Regions from separate parts of the Homo sapiens genome. Here all the other regions are linked to region 2. The links come from fine-mapping of genetic effects on gene expression. A gene starts in region 2. Each other region holds a variant in brackets. All regions are shown on one strand. Distances are between the middles of the regions. Region 1 has its middle 38 kb from the start of TRC-GCA9-1. Region 2 holds the start of ACP3 (acid phosphatase 3). Region 3 holds the start of LOC124909435 (a long non-coding RNA gene). Region 4 has its middle 36 kb from the start of ACP3. Region 5 has its middle 30 kb from the start of TRC-GCA9-1.

The links. PIP is the estimated chance that this variant, and not a neighbour inherited with it, causes the effect.
Region 1: its variant is the best candidate, but not a certain one, in a credible set for the expression of ACP3 in whole blood (TOPMed, PIP 0.53).
Region 3: its variant is the best candidate, but not a certain one, in a credible set for the expression of ACP3 in whole blood (TOPMed, PIP 0.85).
Region 4: its variant is the best candidate, but not a certain one, in a credible set for the expression of ACP3 in sun-exposed skin (GTEx, PIP 0.64).
Region 5: its variant is the best candidate, but not a certain one, in a credible set for the expression of ACP3 in whole blood (TOPMed, PIP 0.81).

What each region holds. Positions count from the first base shown.
Region 1 is chr3:132,267,374-132,271,494 of GRCh38, forward strand. No RefSeq gene overlaps it. Among named protein-coding and RNA genes, the nearest start is that of TRC-GCA9-1, 38 kb to the left of the region's middle. The variant G/T (reference allele first, on the strand shown) is at 1,917.
Region 2 is chr3:132,315,421-132,319,541 of GRCh38, forward strand. ACP3 (acid phosphatase 3) reads left to right here and starts at 1,987. Exons shown (of 10, transcript NM_001099.5): 1 at 1,987-2,156. The coding sequence starts at 2,037.
Region 3 is chr3:132,374,280-132,378,400 of GRCh38, forward strand. LOC124909435 (a long non-coding RNA gene) reads left to right here and starts at 2,510. Exons shown (of 2, transcript XR_007096093.1): 1 at 2,510-3,083. The variant T/G (reference allele first, on the strand shown) is at 2,061.
Region 4 is chr3:132,279,252-132,283,372 of GRCh38, forward strand. It overlaps the pseudogene LOC124906374. Among named protein-coding and RNA genes, the nearest start is that of ACP3, 36 kb to the right of the region's middle. The variant A/G (reference allele first, on the strand shown) is at 1,626.
Region 5 is chr3:132,259,396-132,263,516 of GRCh38, forward strand. No RefSeq gene overlaps it. Among named protein-coding and RNA genes, the nearest start is that of TRC-GCA9-1, 30 kb to the left of the region's middle. The variant G/A (reference allele first, on the strand shown) is at 2,308.

The DNA of each region.
Region 1 (4,121 bases), 48 kb before region 2:
CACAGCAAGTCAACTGTCCCTTAACTAACATCTTCCAAGAACCAGTGAGGCTTGGCTGCCTGTCCTGGTGATGAGACCAAGGTCTACTTACGAGCATTTACAGGTGCCTACTACATGCTGGTGATTTCTGGGAGTCAGGAGGAAGATTAAAGGAGAATCAGGTGCAGCCTATAGCTGTAGTAGTTGGCAGTTTATCTAGAGAGATGATCAGGTAAATAAGTAACTGTATTATAAGAGAGGTAAGTACAAAGGCTATGGGATGGCAGAGATAGTGTCAAAATAACTCCTTGGGAGAGTCAGGAAAGACTTGGGAAAGGGTGACATTTATGCTGGCTGTAAAAGAAGATATAAAAGTGAACTTAGAGCTGAGAGTCAAGACACAGTGTTCTCTAAGCAGAGAACGGATATGCAGACATATTGCAAATACATTCTTAGAGAAAAACAAACATCATTAAACCAGTGAGGACAGGGAGTTATCCTGTATCTCAGCATTGAGCATCTGTCACCTGTGTTCACCCAGGCCGATACTTGTAGGTACAGTTTAATTCAGGGCTTGAGGACAACAGCAAACAATTCATTAAGAGTGACTATGGGGCCAGGCACAGTGGCTCACGCCTATAATCCCAGCACTTTGGGAGGTCAAAGTGGGCAAATCGCTTTCTATCTAAAAAAAAAAAAAAAAAAAAGAACAAAACAACAACAACAAAAAGAATGACTATGGCATGAGAACCATGTAGAGTTTACTGCACAGCTCCAGTAGCAGGCACACAGTTCCATATCTACTGAGATTGGTTTGGCATTAATTTCCATTTTCTCATCACCAAGGAACTGGTAAAAGTCTTAGCCACTGGAACTGTTACACCAGATTTCAAATCTTCTTTCACTGTTTATGATCTGCTGATCCACTCTTCTGAGTCTTATGCTGTTTTCATCCCAGTACAACCTGCCCTGTTTTCTTGGACCAGAACCTGTACTTTTAATACCTGTTTCAATGTATATTCCAGGGACACTTTCATAACGGAGACTTTGCCAATAGTTTTGCCATGAAGAATTCTCCTGCTTACTATGTGAATTGTTGGCCAGCAAATGGCTTCTCTTGCGGGGGTCCATCCTACAGACACTGACCCAATGACAGATGAATAACGTACACTGACACATATATTCTGCTTGTCAGTCTGGCTAAGGGTCCGGGCCCCTCACAGATACCAAGGAAGGTGCTGTAAAGAGTAGCAGCCGTGGCCCCGTTCAGCCAACAAAGCTCACATTTATTCAGTATGGATTAAATGACAAAGGTCTTGAGTAAACACTGTTAGAGGGTAATTGACCTGGTTGCCGATCCACCAGTAGACAGAAATTATGCACCCGTGGTTGATTAAAGGTTGGTCTTAGGACCACATGAGTAAACAAGCTATTTAGATAAACTACTCTATATTCCTATGTATCTACACCCTACGCTTTTAAGGGAGTTCAGCTGTCTTCAGCCAAACACTTTACACAAACCCCCAGGCCTTCTAAGAGGGTTTGTGTTTAATTCCTATAATTTCATCTTAAAATTTTTCCCACCAGCCTGACTGAACTCCCACATTCTCTCTTTGGTGACAAACCCTGCAGCTTTCTCTCCCTCTTTCTTATTTAAACATTTACTTTCCAGAGCAGCTGCCTGTTTGTTCTTAGTGATTAGCAGTCTCCTGTGGTGGAACAAGGAGAAAAGCATGGTATATCTTGAGGCTTTTTGGTGAAAGAAATACCTTCTTGAATGGATTTGAGCTGCAAATGGGTCCCCCTTGTGGTGAAGTTTCCCACTGGGAGAAAAAGAAACACATGGCCAGCCAGGCGCAGTGGCTCATACCTGTAATACCAGCACTTTGGGAGACTGAAGCAGGTGGATCACAAGGTCAGGAGTTCGAGACCAGCCT[G/T]GCCAACATGTTGAAACCCCCATCTCTACTAAAAATACAAAAATTAGCCAGGTGCAGTGGCAGGCACCTGTAATCCCAGATATTTGGCAGGCTGAGGCAGGAGAATCGCTTGAACCCAGGAGGTGGAGGTTGCAGTGAGCCAAGATCGTGCCACTGCACCCTAGCCTGAGCGACAGAACGAGACTCCATCTCAAACAAACAAACAAACAAACAAAAAACACACGGATTCACTCATTCAACAATATTTATGAAGCATCTGCTTATATGCCTGGCATTATCCCAGGTGTTAGGATATGGTGGTAAGCAAAACAGATTAAAAATTCCTTGCCTATCTGAACTATGTGATGCCTCTTTGTAATTTCATAGGAGCTCAAGCTTGCACCTTTAAACAATTCTGAGATGACCATCATGTAGGCTATACAAAGACATGAAGAAATATAAGAGCAGAATCATTCAACGAGCTGTGGAAAACCATGCCTGTTATTTCTGTGCTTCTCCCATCTAACACAAGTGCCTGGTGTAATTTTTATTTTATTCAATAAACATTTATTGAGTGCCTACAATTTATCAGGCAGTTATATTTCAGAACAATATTTTTCAAACTTTAACGGACATGTGAATCACTTGGAGATCTTGTTAAAAAGCAAATTTTGATTCATTTGATGCAAAAGTGGGGTTGGGGGTGGGGTGCAGGGGCTTAGATTTTGCATTTCTAACAACCTTCCAAGTGACGCCAATGTTGCTGGTTCATGCACCATACTTTGACACAATCACTTACATTCTGGTGGAAGACAGGTAAGTCAACAATTAGAGAATAGTAAGTTGAGGCCGGGTGTGGTGGCTCACGCCCGTAATCCCAACACTTCGGGAGGCCGAGGTGGGCTGATCACTTGAGGTCAGAATGTTTGAGACTCTGTCTCTACAAAAATACAAAATAAGCTGGGCGCAGTGGAGTGCGCCTGTAGTCCCAGCTACTCGGGAGGCTGAGGCAGAATTGCTTGAACCAGGAGGCAGAGGCAGAGGTTGCAGTGAGCTGAGATAGCACCACTGCACTCCAGCCTGGGCAACAGAGTGAGACTGTGTCTCAGAAAAAAAAAAAAAAAAAAAACAGAGAGAGAGGCCCGGCACGGTGGTTCACTCCTGTAATCCCAGAACTTTGGGAGGCCAAGGCGGGTGGTGGGGCATGAAGTCAGGAGATCGAGCCATGCTGGCTAATACAGTGAAACCCTGTCTCTACTAAAAATACAAAAAATTAGCCAGGCGTGATGGTGCATGCCTGTAATCCCAGCTACTCAGGAGGCTGAGGCAGGAGAATCACTTGAACCAGGGAGGCAAAGGTTGCAGTGAGCTGAGATTGCACCACTGCCCTCCAGCCTGGGGGACAGAGTGAGACTCCATCACAAAAAAAGAGAAAAAAAAAAGAAAGAGAGCGAGAATGGTAAACTGATATATAGAAAACACAGTGTAGCGGGAGAACAGAGGAGGACACAGAGTAAGAACTAAAGATGGGGACAATAGGATGAAACCGGTCTCCTGAAATACAACTCTGAGTCCAGTATGAAGGGTAAAGAGGGAGAGACTGAAGACATAAGCTAATACTCACACCAATAAGGATAACATTTATTATTTACATCATGCTAAGCATTGTGCAAAGTGCTTTATAGCCTAAAACTCATTGAATCCTCTCAATAGCCCTATGAGATAGGTAGCTATGGTAGACAGAATAATGTCCCCAAAGATGCTCATGTCCTAATCCCTGGAAACTGTCAATATGCAAAAGGAGAATTAAGGTTGTGTAGGAAATGAAGTTTACTTGTCATTTGATTTTAAACTAGGGAGAGTATCCCGGATTACCCAGATGGGCCCAGTGAAACCATAAGGCTCCTTACAGTGAAAGAGGGAAGCCGAAGAAGAGTCTGTGTTCGAGTGATGCCATGTGAGAAAGTTTCAACCAGCCACTGCTAGCTTTAAGGACAGAAAGGGGCCATGAACCAAGGAATACAGGCAGCCTCTAGAAATGGAAAAGCAAGCAAATGGCAGTTTCACCTAGAACCTCTAGAAGGAATGCAGCCCTACCAACACCTTAATTTTAGCCCAGTGAGACCTATTTTCGGCTCCTGACCTCTAGAACCATGAGATAATAAATTTGTGGGTTTTTTAATTTTTGATTTTTATAGGTACATAGTGGGTATGTATATTTATGGG
Region 2 (4,121 bases):
GTCTCACTCTATTGCCCAGGCTAGAGTGCAGTGGTGTGATCTCAGCTCACTGCAACCTCAGCCTCCCGGATTCAAGTGATTCTCCTGCCCCAGCCTCCCAGGTAGCTGGGATTACAGGCTCCCACCACCACACCTGGCTAATTTTTGTATTTTTAGTAGATATGGGGTTTCACCACATTGACCAGGCTGGTCTCGAACTCCTGATCTCAAGTGATCTGCCCACCTCAGCCTCCCAAAGTGGTGGGATTACAGGCGTGAGCCACCATGCCCAGCCTATTTGCGCATGTTTCCTACTGCCGGAAGAAGGAACAGTTCTCCCATATACCACATTCCAGGGCATCCTATGATCACATAAGAACACAATCCTCCTGCCACAGGTAAGCGCAATGTACCAGGAAACAGGTTGCGGGTAAACCATTGTTCTCCCTCTGCCATTATGATAGAAATATCATGACAGGCAGCTCTGCCCCCAAATCTTGCAAAATCTCAATGTGCACCTCAAGTTTGTATTGTTTTAGCCTATGATGGAACTGACAGGTTGGGGAAAATGGAAAGCAAAGTTCCATCAGTCTGGATCGCCTTTTGTAGTGTCCCCAGTGAGATCATAGCTGGAGAGGCAAGGATGTAACTCACTCAAAATTTAAGGCTTATGGCCAAAGTTGATGACTAATAATATAGAATTGTAGGTTTGGGCTTTTTGCTTTCTTAAAAAACTCTGTCAGGTTTGGAAAGGGACCTCCAATCTAATTTTGAGATACCACAGGTAATGTCCAATTGTCTTAAGGTGTGACTAAAATTTTTCTTTTGTTTGTTTTTTGTTGTTGTTTGTTTGTTTTGCTGTGTTTTGAGATGGAGTCTTGCTCTGTCACTCAGGCTGGAGTGCAGTGGCACAATCTCGGCTCACTGCAACCTCCACCTCCTGGGTTCAAGTGACTCTCCTGCCTCGCCTCCCAGGTAGCTGGGACTATAGGCATGTGCCACCACGCCAGGCTAATTTTTTTTTTTTGTATTTTTAGTAGAGATGGGGTTTCACCATGCTGGCCAGGCTGGTCTTAACTCCTGACCTCAAGTGATCTGCCCACCTCGGCCTCCCAAAGTGCTGGGATTACAGACATGAGCCACCACGCCCAGCCTAAAATTTTTCAAAATAAACTTGCTGTTACTTTTCTTCTTTAATTTAAAAATACCTCTATAGGCTACATGAGAGTTTTTGAAAAAGTAGCCATGTTTGGCATGGAAATAGGCCCCAAATATGTCAACACCTGTATTTCCTTCCAGATTTCAGTCCTATAACTTTGGACTCCCAACAGATTAAGAATCACTGGTCTAAGGTTTCTAAAGTCAGGGTAGATCCCTTTCCCAAGTGACAGCCACAAATCCAACGCTGTATCATACCCTATCTAAAGAAAAGATAAAAGTAAACTGGCTTGGCACAGTGGCTCATGCCTGTAATCTCAGCACTTTGGGAGGCCAAGGCAGGCGGATCATGCGGTTAGGAGTTGGAGACCAGCCTAACCAACATGGTGAAACCCCGTCTCTACTAAAAATACAAAAATTCGCCGGGTGTGGTGGTGCACGCCTGTAATCCCAGCTACTCAGGAAGACTGAAGCAGGAGAATTGCTTGAACCTGGGAGGCGGAGTTTGCAGTGAGCTGAGATTGTGCCACTGTGCTCCAGCCTGGATGACAGAGCAAGACTCTGTCTCAAAAAAAAAAAAACAAAAAACAAAGATAAAAGTAAACTGAAAACAAGGATAGAAATGTCTGCTAACATGCTCTGTGACCTTGATCAACAGCTTTCCCCGCTCTTGGCCTTGGTGTCCTAACTTAAATGGGGAAACTGTGATCTCTCTCAGCTCAAAATTTACATGACATTATTTACATACCAAACCTGCCCTACGCTTCCTGGAAACTTTACTACTTATGAGTGTGGCTCCTCCTTCCCTTTCAATCCCTTAATTAAATAGCTTCCCCTCTACAGGCTTTTGAAGTGGTAGCAGTTCCTCCTAACTCCTGCCAGAAACAGCTCTCCTCAACATGAGAGCTGCACCCCTCCTCCTGGCCAGGGCAGCAAGCCTTAGCCTTGGCTTCTTGTTTCTGCTTTTTTTCTGGCTAGACCGAAGTGTACTAGCCAAGGAGTTGAAGTTTGTGACTTTGGTAAGTAGACTTTTCTCATTGCTTTTTCCTTAAAACTGTGTTCCCAGCAAAGTCTGATAAGGCAAGCGTCAGGTTTCATCTTATCCTTGGATTGTTTCCCAGAGACCAGGCTCTGTTCAAACTCAGAAAGTGAATAATCAAGTTTTGCAAGTTCCTCTTAATGAAGACCTAACGTGTCCTAACAAAAATATTTTTTGGTCGCTGTTTTTTTAGGGGTTGCTTTTTATTTGCTTTTGCTGATGTTATTTATTTACTTACTTTACAACTGCCTTGAATTCAGATTCCTTTTGACAGCCACACCAGTCCAGAAGAAACCACAGCTGGCGCTGTTTATGTACCAAGAGCTGGCTTCATTCAATTTAATCATTATTTGTTTGCAAGCCAAAAAACAGTCATTTTCTGAATTAAGTAGTCCTTTCACCTTTGTTTATCAGGAAATTAGAACAACTATTTGTAAACAACCTTGAAGCATAAAAGTGAATCTAAATTTGGAATTTTAGGATGATTTTCTGATATATAGATTTAGTTGACGATTAAAATCATTGGCACATGTGACCAGTTATGAAAAAAGGTGGGGGGTGGCTGATGCATAATATCAAGAAAAGAAAATATACTGTTGACATTGTTTGAAAATAGATGGAAAGAGGGTTTGCAAAGTGAAGGGGATTCATCATGTTACCTAAGAGTCTGATTTTCTGTTTCTGTATCTTTTTTTCCTTCTGTTTCACTCTTTCTCTGCCTCTAAGCCTCTAAGCTGCTTCTTGCCTTTCCTCTCTCGTTTTCTTTCTCTTCCCTACATTTTTTTATTTGAGATAGTGAAAGTGGGCTGATAAGTAGGTAAATTTTCTTTCTGTCAAGAATACTCAAAAATTATTTTTATAATTTGAAGGAAAGTCACTGTTTCCTTAAAAATTAAAGTTCAGGCTTTTTTTTTTTTCAGCATGGGATATTCAAAGCTCTTTACTTTCTACAGAAAATATGATACCCATGTGCTTATTTGAATCATTATTCTTATAGTCCAGTAAATCCTTACTAGGTCATGAGTCAACAATGACAGAAAACCCAGTGAAACAAACTATCAATTTATTTACAAATGATTCACCAGCTGTCAGACTTCTGTGCAGAAAAAAAATATATAATACTGTGTGCCTTCTTTAGGGAAACCCATGTGAGCTAGGCTTGTACTTCTATCAGTAGTTTTCTTGCTAACATGTGCATGAGGCAAGTTTAGGGACTGTAGAAATTGTACTGCATCTGCCGTGCTTGTAATACTGTAAACCTGTGACAAGCTGGTTGAGTGGCAGTCCTCTGAGAAATCCAAGTTACTCCAAGCTCACTGTACATGATGTATTCCCTCCTCCATGTTTTACCCAAGTTAGCCCAGGCTAACTTCCTTTGACTACCAAATTGTTGTGGGTTTCCTATATTCAGGGACTGCAAGTTAATTCTTTCCTGAGGAAAGCCAAAATACAAAGCTAGCTCTCTTAGAACTAAAAAAATTAACAAATATTGCACAAAGCCAGTGTTAACTATTTTTTCCTACCATGATTTCCTTCCATTAATGGTAGATGAAGGGCCATTTAATACATCTTTCTTGGCCCTTATAAAACAACGTCCATCTAAGTACTTAAGCCAATAAACATCAGTTTCTTATTTTTATTGACTAAAGAGAATATTTGACTATAAGTGGTTAATTTATACAAATGAGATAACTCTTAGAAAATTATTAGGAGAACCAGAATTGTTTTAAAAGATGCCCATAACTAAAGTGGTAATATTAATGATAATAACCAATAGTCAATTGAGTGCTTACTGCAAGTACTTACTGCAATTGAGTGCTTACAAGGCACTGTTCTGAGTGTTCAATATGAATTGTATCACATAAGCCTGTCAACAATCCTCTAAAATAAGGTCGTTAAATAAAATATGGGATGACCATTTGAATTTGAACTTCAGATAAATAGC
Region 3 (4,121 bases), 59 kb after region 2:
TTGAATGTGTTTGCTCTTGCTTTTCTAGTTCTTTTAATTGTGATGTTAGGGTGTCAATTTTGGATCTTTCCTGCTTTCTCTTGTGGGCATTTAGTGCTATAAATTTCCCTCTACACACTGCTTTGAATGCATCCCAGAGATTCTGGTATGTTGTGTCTTTGTTCTCGTTGGTTTCAAAGAACAACTTTATTTCTGCCTTTATTTCGTTATGTACCCAGTAGTCATTCAGGAGCAGGTTGTTCAGTTTCCATGTAGTTAAGTGGTTTGGAGTGAGTTTCTTAATCCTGAGGTCTAGTTTGATTGCACTGTGGTCTGAGAGACAGTTTGTTATAATTTCTGTTCTTTTACGTTTGCTTAGGAGTGCTTTACTTCCAACTATGTGGTCAATTTTGGAATAGGTGTGGTGTGGTGCTGAAAAAAATATATATTCTGTTGATTTGGGGTGGAGAGTTCTGTAGATGTCTATTAGGTCCACTTGGTGCAGAGCTGAGTTCAATTCCTGGGTATCCTTGTTGACTTTCTGTCTCGTTGATCTGTCTAATGTTGACAGTGGGGTGTTAAAGTCTCCCATTATTAATGTGTGGGAGTCTAAGTCTCTTTGTAGGTCACTCAGGACTTGCTTTATGAATCTGGGTGCTCCTGTATTGGGTGCATATATATTTAGGATAGTTAGCTCTTGTTGTTGAATTGATCCCTTTACCATTATGTAATGGCCTTCTTGGTCTCTTTTGATCTTTGTTGGTTTAAAGTCTGTTTTATCAGAGACTAGGATTGCAACCCCTGCCTTTTTTTGTTTTCCATTTGCTTGGTAGATCTTCCTCCATCCTTTTATTTTGAGCCTATGTGTGTCTCTGCACGTGAGATGGATTTCCTGAACACAGCACACTGATGGGTCTTGACTCTTTATCCAATTTGCCAGTCTGTGTCTTTTAATTGGAGCATTTAGTCCATTTACATTTAAAGTTAATATTGTTATGTGTGAATCTGATCCTGTCATTATGATGTTAGCTGGTGATTTTGCTCGTTAGTTGATGCAGTTTCTTCCTAGTCTCGATGGTCTTTACATTTTGGCATGATTTTGCAGCGGCTGGTACCGGTTGTTCCTTTCCATGTTTAGCACTTCCTTCAGGAGCTCTTTTAGGGCAGGCCTGGTGGTGACAAAATCTCTCAGCATTTGCTTGTCTGTAAAGTATTTTATTTCTCCTTCACTTATGAAGCTTAGTTTGGCTGGATATGAAATTCTGGGTTGAAAATTCTTTTCTTTAAGAATGTTGAATATTGGCCCCCACTCTCTTCTGGCTTGTAGGGTTTCTGCCGAGAGATCCGCTGTTAGTCTGATGGGCTTCCCTTTGAGGGTAACCCGACCTTTCTCTCTGGCTGCCCTTAACATTTTTTCCTTCATTTCAACTTTGGTGAATCTGACAATTATGTGTCTTGGAGTTGCTCTTCTCGAGGAGTATCTTTGTGGCGTTCTCTGTATTTCCTGAATCTGAATGTTGGCCTGCCTTGCTAGATTGGGGAAGTTCTCCTGGATAATATCCTGCAGAGTGTTTTCCAACTTGGTTCCATTCTCCCCATCACTTGCAGGTACACCAGTCAGACGTAGATTTGGTCTTTTCACATAGTCCCATATTTCTTGGAGTCTTTGCTCATTTCTTTTTATTCTTTTTTCTCTAAACTTCCCTTCTCACTTCATTTCATTCATTTCATCTTCCATTGCTGATACCCTTTCTTCCAGTTGATCGCATCAGCTCCTGAGGCTTCTGCATTCTTCACGTAGTTCTCGAGCCTTGGTTTTCAGCTCCATCAGCTCCTTTAAGCACTTCTCTGTATTGGTTATTCTAGTTATACATTCTTCTAAATTTTTTTCAAAGTTTTCAACTTCTTTGCCTTTGGTCTGAATGTCCTTCCGTAGCTCAGGGTAATTTGATCTTCTGAAGCCTTCTTCTCTCAGCTCGTCAAAGTCATTCTCCATCCAGCTTTGTTCCGTTGCTGGTGAGGAACTGCGTTCCTTTGGAGGAGGAGAGCCGCTCTGCTTTTTAGAGTTTCCAGTTTTTCTG[T/G]TCTGTTTTTTCCCCATCTTTGTGGTTTTATCTACTTTTGGTCTTTGATGATGGTGATGTACAGATGGGTTTTTGGTGTGGATGTCCTTTCTGTTTGTTAGTTTTCCTTCTAACAGACAGGACCCTCAGCTGCAGGTCTGTTGGAATACCCTGCCGTGTGAGGTGTCAGTGTGTCCCTGCTGGGGGGTGCCTCCCAGTTAGGCTGCTTGGGGGTCAGGGGTCAGGGACCCACTTGAGGAGGCAGTCTGCCCGTTCTCAGATCTCCAGCTGCGTGCTGGGAGAACCACTGCTCTCTTCAAAGCTGTCAGACAGGGACATTTAAGTCTGCAGAGGTTACTGCTGTCTTTTTGTTTGTCTGTGCCCTGGCCCCAGAGGTGGAGCCTACAGAGGCAGGCAGGCCTCCTTGAGCTGTGGTGGGCTCCACCCAGTTCGAGCTTCCCTGCTGCTTTGTTTACCTAAGCAAGCCTGGGCAATGGCGGGCGCCCCTCCCCCAGCCTCGCTGCCGCCTTGCAGTTTGATCTTAGACTGCTGTGCTAGCAATCAGCGAGACTCCGTGGGCGGGCGTAGGACCCTCCGAGCCAGGTGCGGGTTATAATCTCGTGGTGCGCCGTGTTTTAAGCCTGTCGGAAAAGCGCAGTATTCGGGTGGGAGTGACCCAATTTTCCAGGTGCGTCCGTCACCCCTTTCTTTGACTAGGAAAGGGAACTCCCTGACCCCTTGCGCTTCCCGAGTGAGGCCCTCGCCCTGCTTCGGTTCGCGCACGGTGCGCGCACCCACTGGCCTGCGCCCACTGTCTGGCACTCCCTAGGAGATGAACCCGGTACCTCAGATGGAAATGCAGAAATCACCCGTATTCTGCGTCGCTCACGCTGGGAGCTGTAGACGGGAGCTGTTCCTATTCGGCCATCTTGGCTCCTCCCCCTGAAAATCATTTTCTACCAAAACTTTGAAGGCGGTATTCTGCTGTCTTCCAGCATACAGGATTGCTGATGAGAAGTCTATCAGTCTGATTCTCATTCCAATGTAAGTAATCTGTTTTGCTTTTTCTAATTCTTTTAAGATATTCTCTTTAGCTTAGAGTTCTGAAATTTCACCAGGTTGTGTTTAGGCATGGGTATTTTGGGTTTTTGTTTGTTTTCTGTCTAATTCTGTATGGCTGATATGATTTTTTTCCATCTAAAGACACTTGTCTTTCTCCAACTAAGAAAAATTGTGTTCTGGAACTTGAATTTCTTGGGTCTATCCTCCATGCCTTGAGTTTTCTCTCATATTTTCCACCATTTATTTTATTTCTCTACATTCCAGTAAATTTCGTTTTCCAGAACATCAACTTGGTCGTCAGCAAATCCATTATTCCTGTTTTACTTACGAGTATTCTTTTCTTTGGTATTTACTGACTGTTCTTTTTTTCACCGTAGCTGTTTTTTGTTTGTCTGTTTTCAGAAATGGGGTCTCACTCTGTTGCCCCAGCTGGAGTGCAATGGCAGTATCACAGCTCACTGCAGCCTCAAACTCCTAGGCTCAAGGGATCCTCCTGCCTCAGCCTCCCAAACAGCTGAGATTACAGGCACATGCCACCACACCTGGCAGCCTCATTATTTTATCAGTGCAATCTCCTCTTGAAAATCTTTAAGGATACTAATAATTTTTTCAAGTTCTCCTCTGCTCCCTAAATTATCTGTTTTCTCTGGGCTCAGTTTTTTGGGTTTATTAATCTTGGACCTTGTGTTTAATGCTATGGTTTTTTTCTCAAATTCTTGTAAATCATAATCCACAAATGAAGAGCTTGGAGGATTAATAGAGATGGTTAGTGTTGGTTTTCGTTTTAGCCATGTATGTGTTTCCCCAAGAAAAGTTCTTCTTGAATAGCTGCTTTAAAATTCTCACATGCTAATTGCAATATCTTAGTCATTTCAAGACCAGTCTTTGTTGTCCTTTCCTATATGGGTTCTGTTTTTCTGTTTCCTTTTATGTAGACCAATTTTGGATTTTGTCTTAGACATTGGAATAATATATTGTAAAGACTCTGGATGCTATTCTATTATGTTCCTCTAAAAACTT
Region 4 (4,121 bases), 36 kb before region 2:
GGATTCTTTAAGAAAACCTCTAGCTAGCAGCCTTCTGCTCCCTCTGTTGTCCAAGTTATACGTTTGTAAGTTTTATTGGTTGGTTTTATGAGGAATATGTTCCTCCACATTCTACATTTTCCTTTGTGCTAAGAAAGGATCTAAAAACATCTGAAACTCTAACATTGTAATTGAAGCTGTGGATCAAACTGTAGAAATTATAAATTCATCTGGTTGTTTATTACATCTTAGTTCATTTTGTGTTGCTTAGAATACCTGAAACTGTGTATTTTATAAAGAAAAGGAATTTATTTTCTACAGATCAGGAGGCTAAGTCCAAGGTCGAGGGGTTGCATCTAGTGACAGCCTTCTTGCTGGGGACTTCTTTACAGAGTCCCGAGGCAGCACGGGATATCACATGGCAAAGGTGCTGAGCATGAGCTCAGGTCTCTCTTTCTCTTCTTATAAAGCCACCAGTTCCCCTCCCATGATAACATAATAATCCATTAACCCATTAGTCCATGGATGGATTATTCCATTCTTGAGGGAGAGTCCTCATGCAATCATGTCTTTTTTTGTTTTCTCTGAGACAGAGTTTTGCTCTTGTTGCCTAGGCTGGAGTGCAATGGTGCGATCTCGGCTCGGTGCAATCTCGGCTCACTGCAACCTCTGCTTCCCAGGTTCAAACGATTCTCCTGCCTCAGCCTCCCGAGTAGCTGAGATTACAGGCATGAACCATCTTACCCAGCTAATTTTGTATTTTTAGTAGAGATGGGGTTTCACCCTGTTGGTCAGGCTGGTCTTGAACTCCTGACCTCAGGTGATCCTCCCACCTCAGCCCCCCAAGGTGCTGGGATTACAGGTGTGAGCCACCACACCCAGAATTCAATCATGTCTTAAAGACCCCACCTCTCAATACTGTCACACTGGGGATTAAGTTTCAATGTGAGTTTTAAAGGGTACATTTAAACCATACCACTATGGGATGTAGGTTGTTTTGATGAGGGACAGTCTCAAAATGGGAGGAAGATTAGAATATATATATATATATATAATAATACAAAGAAAAGGCTTATCTATGTGTTAACCGGGGAAAGTTTGCCACTTTGGTAGGAGAAAAAAAATTATAAAAATGGTCACTATATCAAGATAAATGCCCCTGTCTACAATGAAGATTTAATTATTGTAAATTTTTATGCAGCATCTAAATCCATAAGTCAACAACTTCTAAAAATGTAATGAGAAATAGGTAAAAATTTAATTACAGTAAGACTGTAGCTTATCTTTGAAAATTAATAAAAATAAAAAAAGTGTCCTACAGCCAAAAAACTTTAAAACTCTCTCTGAATTTGTTTCAGAAAAAATTCAAATCAAGTAAAGTAAATAGATCCTTTTGTAGTTCATAACAGTGATTACTGGGTTTTCACGTTCATGTGTGAGATGTGCCTTTCTTTTTTTTTGTTTTTGTTTGTTTGTTTTTTGAGACAGAGTCTCGCTCCGTCTCCCAGGCTGGAGTGCAGTGGCGTGATCTCGGCTCTCTGCAACCTCCGCCTCCCGAGTTCAAGCATTTCTCTGCCTCAGCCTCCCAAGTAGCTGGGATTACAGGCACCCGCCACCATGCCTGGCTAATTTTTTGTATTTTTAGT[A/G]GAGACGGGGTTTCACCATCTTGGTCAGGCTGGTCTTGAACCCTTGACCTCGTGATCCACCCGCCCCGGCCTCTCAAAGTGCTGGGATTACAGGCGTGAGCCACCGTGCCCGGCAGCCTTTTTTAAACCTTTTTACCACATCCGCACATTACCCATCTGACATGGAAAAAGAAAAGAATTGTAAATAATTTAGAAAATAACAATAAAATCACAATGCATGAGAAACTATGGGAAACCTCAAAAACCATGAGAAAAAATTCATAACTTTAAACATTTTTAATATTAACCAATAAAGAGTTGAGGACTAAACTGATTTTTTTATCTTGCCCAAATTCCCATCTAAAGAGTCTGAGGAGTCATGCCCTATAAACCATAAGTTCTCATCAGATGGGTTTTATTTAACCCTATATATCGTGGCTTTCCAACCTGACTCTAGCATAACATTATGAGACAAGGAAGAAAATTGAAATATTTCACCCCAAAACATGTTTATTTGCCATATCTTGAAATGGCCCTGCAAAGCTGTCCTTTGTGGGGGAAAATTTGTGTCTGTAAAGAATCTCTGTTAACGTAACTAGATCTTTTTCTTCCAGGCCCTCCCAATCCTAGAGATTAACTAAAAGTTTAGCACCTTTTAAAGATCTGAATATGAAATATTTGCCATCTATTATCTCTAAGGGCAGCCACAATAAGACTTCAAAGGAACCTTGGCCTCCATAATCTTTTATCTTAACCCAAATATTTCCTTTCTGTCAGTCTCAGATCTTTAGACAAACTCAGCCAATTGTCAACCAGAAAATGTTTAAATTTACCTATAGCCTGGAATCCCACACCCCTGACTTTGAGTTGTATCATTTTTCTGGATCAAACCAATGTATTTCTAACATGTATTTGATTGATGTCTCATGCCCGCCTAAAATGTATAAAACCAAGCTGCACCCCAACCTTCTGAGGGCTGAGGGCTGTGTCACAGGTCATGATCACTCATATTTGGCTCAGAATAAATCTCTTCAAATATTTTATAGAGTTTGACTCTTTTTGTTGACAAAGCTTTTAAATTAAGCTTTTAAATCAAAACATTTTAGAAGAAGAAAGCTAAAGTAAACCAAAAGAAACATGAAAGATGAAAGTAAAAAACCATGAATTACAGAAAAAAAACAGAGAGACAGGACTAATAAATACATCTAAGAACTGAATCTTAGAAAAACAATGAAATAGGTAGCTTAACTGGCTAATATAATTTTTAAAAGGCAATACAAAATGAACACATTTAGAAGTGAGAAAAATATACATGCACATAAAGGGAATTTTAAAAGATTATAAAAACTGGATGAAATAGATTATTTTAATATAAATTACAAGTTTATACTAAATGTAAGTTAATTTACCAAAAATGACAGCAAAAGAGATGGACAAAACCAAGGACACAAAATACTACAAAGAAACTGAGAAAGTGATCAAATGGTTACCCTTTTAAAAACACTAAATTCAGACAATTTCACAGAGGGCTTCAATCAACTTCGGTCAAATCTACAAGGAACAAAGCTTGCCAGTGTTATTAAAATAGTTCCAAAGCATAAGGGAAAAAGGCTATTCAATCAGTATTTACAAAACCAGTATAACTTTGACACCAAAATCTGAAAATAATAACACAGAAAACTATAGACCAATATTTTATGAACACTATTTAAAAATCCAAAATAAAATAATGGAAAAAGAAAACATCTATTAAAAAAAATGCAAAATGATCAAGGATTCAATGAAGAAATTTAAAAATTCAACATATTAAAAGATCAAAGGAATGTCAACCTAAAGGAAAAAATTGAGGCCAACTTAACGTAAGTAGAGATTTTATTTGGACCAAGTTTGAAGACTGCAACTTGTGAACATAGATTTAAGTTGCCCTGAATATATGCTCTGATTAGCTACAGTTACAAGTAGGTTTCTAAAGAAAAAGAAGAAGCAGTTCCTAAGTTGCTTACCAAGTATTTTATATTAAAATCACATAAGCTACTGATAGGCTATACATTGTTCTTCATATCAAAAATTCCAGGAACATGAAAGTAATGGGTGAGGCAGGTAGTCAGGAACAAAATGCCTTCCTTTTTTTTTTTTTTCCCCCACTTTTTAAAAGGCAAGGTCTTGCTATATTGCCCAGGCTGGTCTCCAACTCCTGGGCTCAAGTGATCCTCTTCTGCCTCAGTCTCCAGAGTAGCTGAGACTATAGGCATACACCACCATGCTTGGCTAATTTAAAAAAAAAAAAATTTAGGAACAGGGTCTTGCTATGTTGCCCAGGCTGGCCTCCAAATCTTGGGCTCAATCAATCCTCCTGGCTTGACCTACCAAAGCGCCAGTATTATGGGCATGAGCTGATGTGCCCACCTCTGTACTCTTTATTTATCATCATACAAAATTAATACTTGAATACACACACAACTTCAAATCTCCTCCATCCCCCTCCCAGTTTTCAGCTCCCTTTCTTAGCTAATTTTT
Region 5 (4,121 bases), 56 kb before region 2:
TAAAGTCTCAAAAACTTCCCAGGAATTAGTGTCAGACACACTAGCTCAGATCACAATGTGGTTAAGTTAGAAATAAATACCAAACACACAAAACCGCTTATGTATGGAAATAAACATACATCTAAATACTTCATGGGTTATAGAAGAAATCTTAATAGGACTTACAATATATTCGGCAATGAATAATAATGGACTACCTCATTTTATAATTTATGAAATGCAGCTAAAATAGTACTTAAAAGGAAATATATAACCTTAAATATACCAATGAGAGGACGGGAGAGATTGAAATCAATAGCTAAGTCTCTCTGCTGATCACTTTCAGGGCACCCCTGTAGATCTATTAGTTGCCCTTCTGTCCATTGTTCTGTGCTTCCAAAAGGCTTACCTGTAAAGACTGCATCATCCCAGCTACTTTCCTGCTGACTTCCACTTGGGTTTACTCAATGGGTGACACTCACAGGACATAAGAGATTAGAAAGAGGGATAAGGATTTTTATATATCTGCTCCCTCCTTACTTAAAGCCATGGTTTTAGCAGAGGCCCAAGGTCGTGGCTTTTTTGAGCAGCCCCTTTATCAAAGGTCTGGAAAGAGTCTACCTTCCCCCTCACAACTGAGTAATGAGGCTTACTACTGTTGCTAGTTCTGGGTAACTCATCTCTTATTGGTTTCTTTAACCCTGACACATTTATGTAAATACTCTCCTCCTTACACTCTCTTAAGTCTTCCTTTGACTATGCCATCTATTTCTTGCCAGGACCTTGGCAGACAGAGCATCCCACTTAAGAAGTTAAGAAAAGAGAAACAGAATAAACCCAGCAAAAGTAGATGGAAGAAAAAATAAAGATAAGTAGAAATTAATGCAATATAAAGCACATATACAGTAGAGAGGACCAACAAAGACAAAAGTTGACAAACTATTTGCATGATTGAGCAAGGAAAAAAAATAATATTAAAAATGTAAAGGACATAGCTAAATATAATGTCGAGATTTAAAAGATACCGAGAGAATAGTATAATTTTATGCCAATAAATTTGAAAACAAAGAAATGAATAAATTTGTAGAAAAATATAATGCAATTTCAATTAAAAATCCAGAAGATACAACCCTATCAATGGGTGTCATGCATCCATCTCAGACAGGAATCCAGGAGTCAATTATTAAGTCAATTATTAAAGAATTTTGTGAGCTGATTGTTAAACTGTTGGTAGCTTGATGTTGGCCAGGGTGGGAGTATTCACACTACAAAAATAAGTGAACACTACAACAATTATAGAATTTGAGTCATTAGTTAAAAATCTGCCCACAAAAACTTCGGGCTTCAAGGGTTTAACCAGCAAGCTCTACGAAACATTCATTAAACAAGTAATTCTAGTCTTCTATAAACTCTTTCAGGTAAACAGAGAATCATTTGATGAGTTTAGCATAACTTTGATGTCCAATATGATGAAGTATGAATGAGAAAAGTCACAGGACACTCTTATTACTAACTAAGCAAAAAATGCTAAACACAAAGTAAAGCAAATCCAGTGATGTGTATAAAATATAACATGAATAAAATGGATTTTCCCAGAAATACTTTCATTAGAAGGCATAACACTAGAAAATCTTTTTTTATTTTTTATTTTTTTATTTATTTTTATTTTTATTTATTTTTTTTTTTTGAGACAGAGTCTTGCTCTGTCACCCAGGCTGGAGTGCAGTGGCATGATCTCGGCTCTGCCTCCGGGTTCATGCCATTCTCCTGCCTCAGCCTCCCGAGTAGCTGGGACCACAGGCGCCCACCACCACGCCCAGCTAATTTTTTGTATTTTTAGTAGAGACGGGGTTTCACCATGTTAGCCAGGATGGTCTTGATCTCCTGACCTCGTGATCTGCCCACCTCAGCCTCCCAAAGTGCTGGGATTACAGGCGTGAGCCACCGCGCCCAGTCTAGAAAATCTTTTAATTCTCCACTTAATACATTTATGAACTTATGTCATCATCTCAATAGATTAAAAAGAACCTCAATAATACTCATCATTTTAAAAAAGAAGAAAAACTCCTAACATATCGAGAATAGGGGAGAATTTCTTTAACCTAATAAAGAGTAACCCCCACAAATTCCCACCCCCAGCAAAAGAAAAAGAAAAAAATGTGGTAACACATTGAATGCATTTTTTGTAAAGTCAGAAACAACTCATGGGCACCCAATGACTTTCGCTACTTCTATGTAACATTGTCCTAAGGGTTTTAGCTGGCATTTTAAGGCATGGAAAAGAAATAACCTGTACAAAATAACAAGGCTTATTGCAAAATATAGCGT[G/A]GGAGAAGGTAGCTGTCACCATTCTCAAGGAGGAAGTTTAAACCCAATAACTATACCACAACAAAACTTGAAGGCAAAGAGAAAAGATTTATAGAGAAAGACCCAAGAAGCTAGAAAAAGTTTCCCTCCTTCTTCTTCCATAATGATTTTTCTGACAGGTGAAGCCACCGCCACCACCACCACCACCACCACCACCAGGGAATCATTAAGAGCCCTTAGATCTCACCAGGTACTATAGAATCTGGAAACACAGTGAGCAAGAAATCTCATTCCATCAGGCCCATTCTAGCCACCAGTAGCCATCCCAAGGTAAAGCAATTGCTCCTGCCCCCCTGGAATGATGAATCCCCTATTCTCTGCCCTCCTTGAATGGCTGGTGGTTTCAGCTATGAGTGTGGTGTACTGATGCTCAAAGTGTAGTCCAAGGACTGTTGTAGGTCTACTCTTTGTTACTGGTCGCTAACAAGAAAAGTGCAGAAATGAAGAGTAAGCAAACAGAACCTGTATAGCAACTTGACACAGTCATTTCACATCTGTTGAATCTAACGATAATTTTTTTAAATTCTGGCTTATATTTGCAAGTCTTTTTTCTCAATTTTATTTTTCTATTAATTTATTTTTAGTGTATTTTTTAAAATCATGAAGGGATTGAAAAATTTAAAACAAACAAAACAACCAAACAAAAAAAAAAACTGATCCCTCACCTGGGGCACTTTTAAAATTCTTAGTGCCCCGCCTAAACCCTACACCTACACCTATTGCATCAGAATATCTAGGGTGGCACCAGACATCAATATTTCTTTATAATCCAGGCTATTGTAGTTTGCAAACAGGGTGAAGCCTTCCTCTCCAAAGCATGCCTGTGGAGCAACAGCATTGGCATCACCCGGAGCTCATTAGAACTACAGAGACTCAGACCCCACCCAGACCTATGGAACCATAATTGCATTTCAACAAGAAGATTGTATGCCCACTCAAGTCTGAAAAGGTTAAATTTAGAGAATGATATCAGAGGTATTGGTCTGCTTTTCAAGGCCCCAAGAGCACAGAGATTTTTCTGGAGAGGGAGTGCGAAGTGGGTCATCACCAGCACTAATATTACCACAGGGACTTCCTAATTGACTATCCTTCCCACAGCTGGCAAGGTGACCTTTCCTAAACAAACCTGTTACTGCTCTCCTGGGGCCTACAAGATCAAGTCCAAACCCCTGACAGCACAGGATACTCACCACCCCTCACCCCATCCCCAACATTTTGTCCCCTTCTTATCTGCTCAACCTCCTTCACACACACTCACACACCACACTTTACATACACATCATACCCACTCACACACACCACACACACGCCATGCAAACACTCCATCCATACCACATATACTCTACATACACATCATATACACACATACCATACACACTGTCACACACACCGCATACACCACACACACCCACACATACCACACACACATATACATCACAGACACCATACCCACTCACACACAGAAACATATACCCCACACATACCACACACATGCTCATACATACACACCACACACACACTGCACATACACACCCCACACACTCCACATACATATCACACACCCTCACACTCACACACACACACACACACACTCTGGACACAACTCCATTCCTCTGCTAATTCCCCTATCTCTGCCTAAAATTCTACCCCCTCTCAATCCTCAATTAATGTCACCCTCTTGCCTACCTAAAGAACTCCTTCCCCTGGTGGCTCACAACTGTAATTCTAGCATTTGAGGAGGCAGACACATGAGAATCACTGGATCCCAAGTCTGA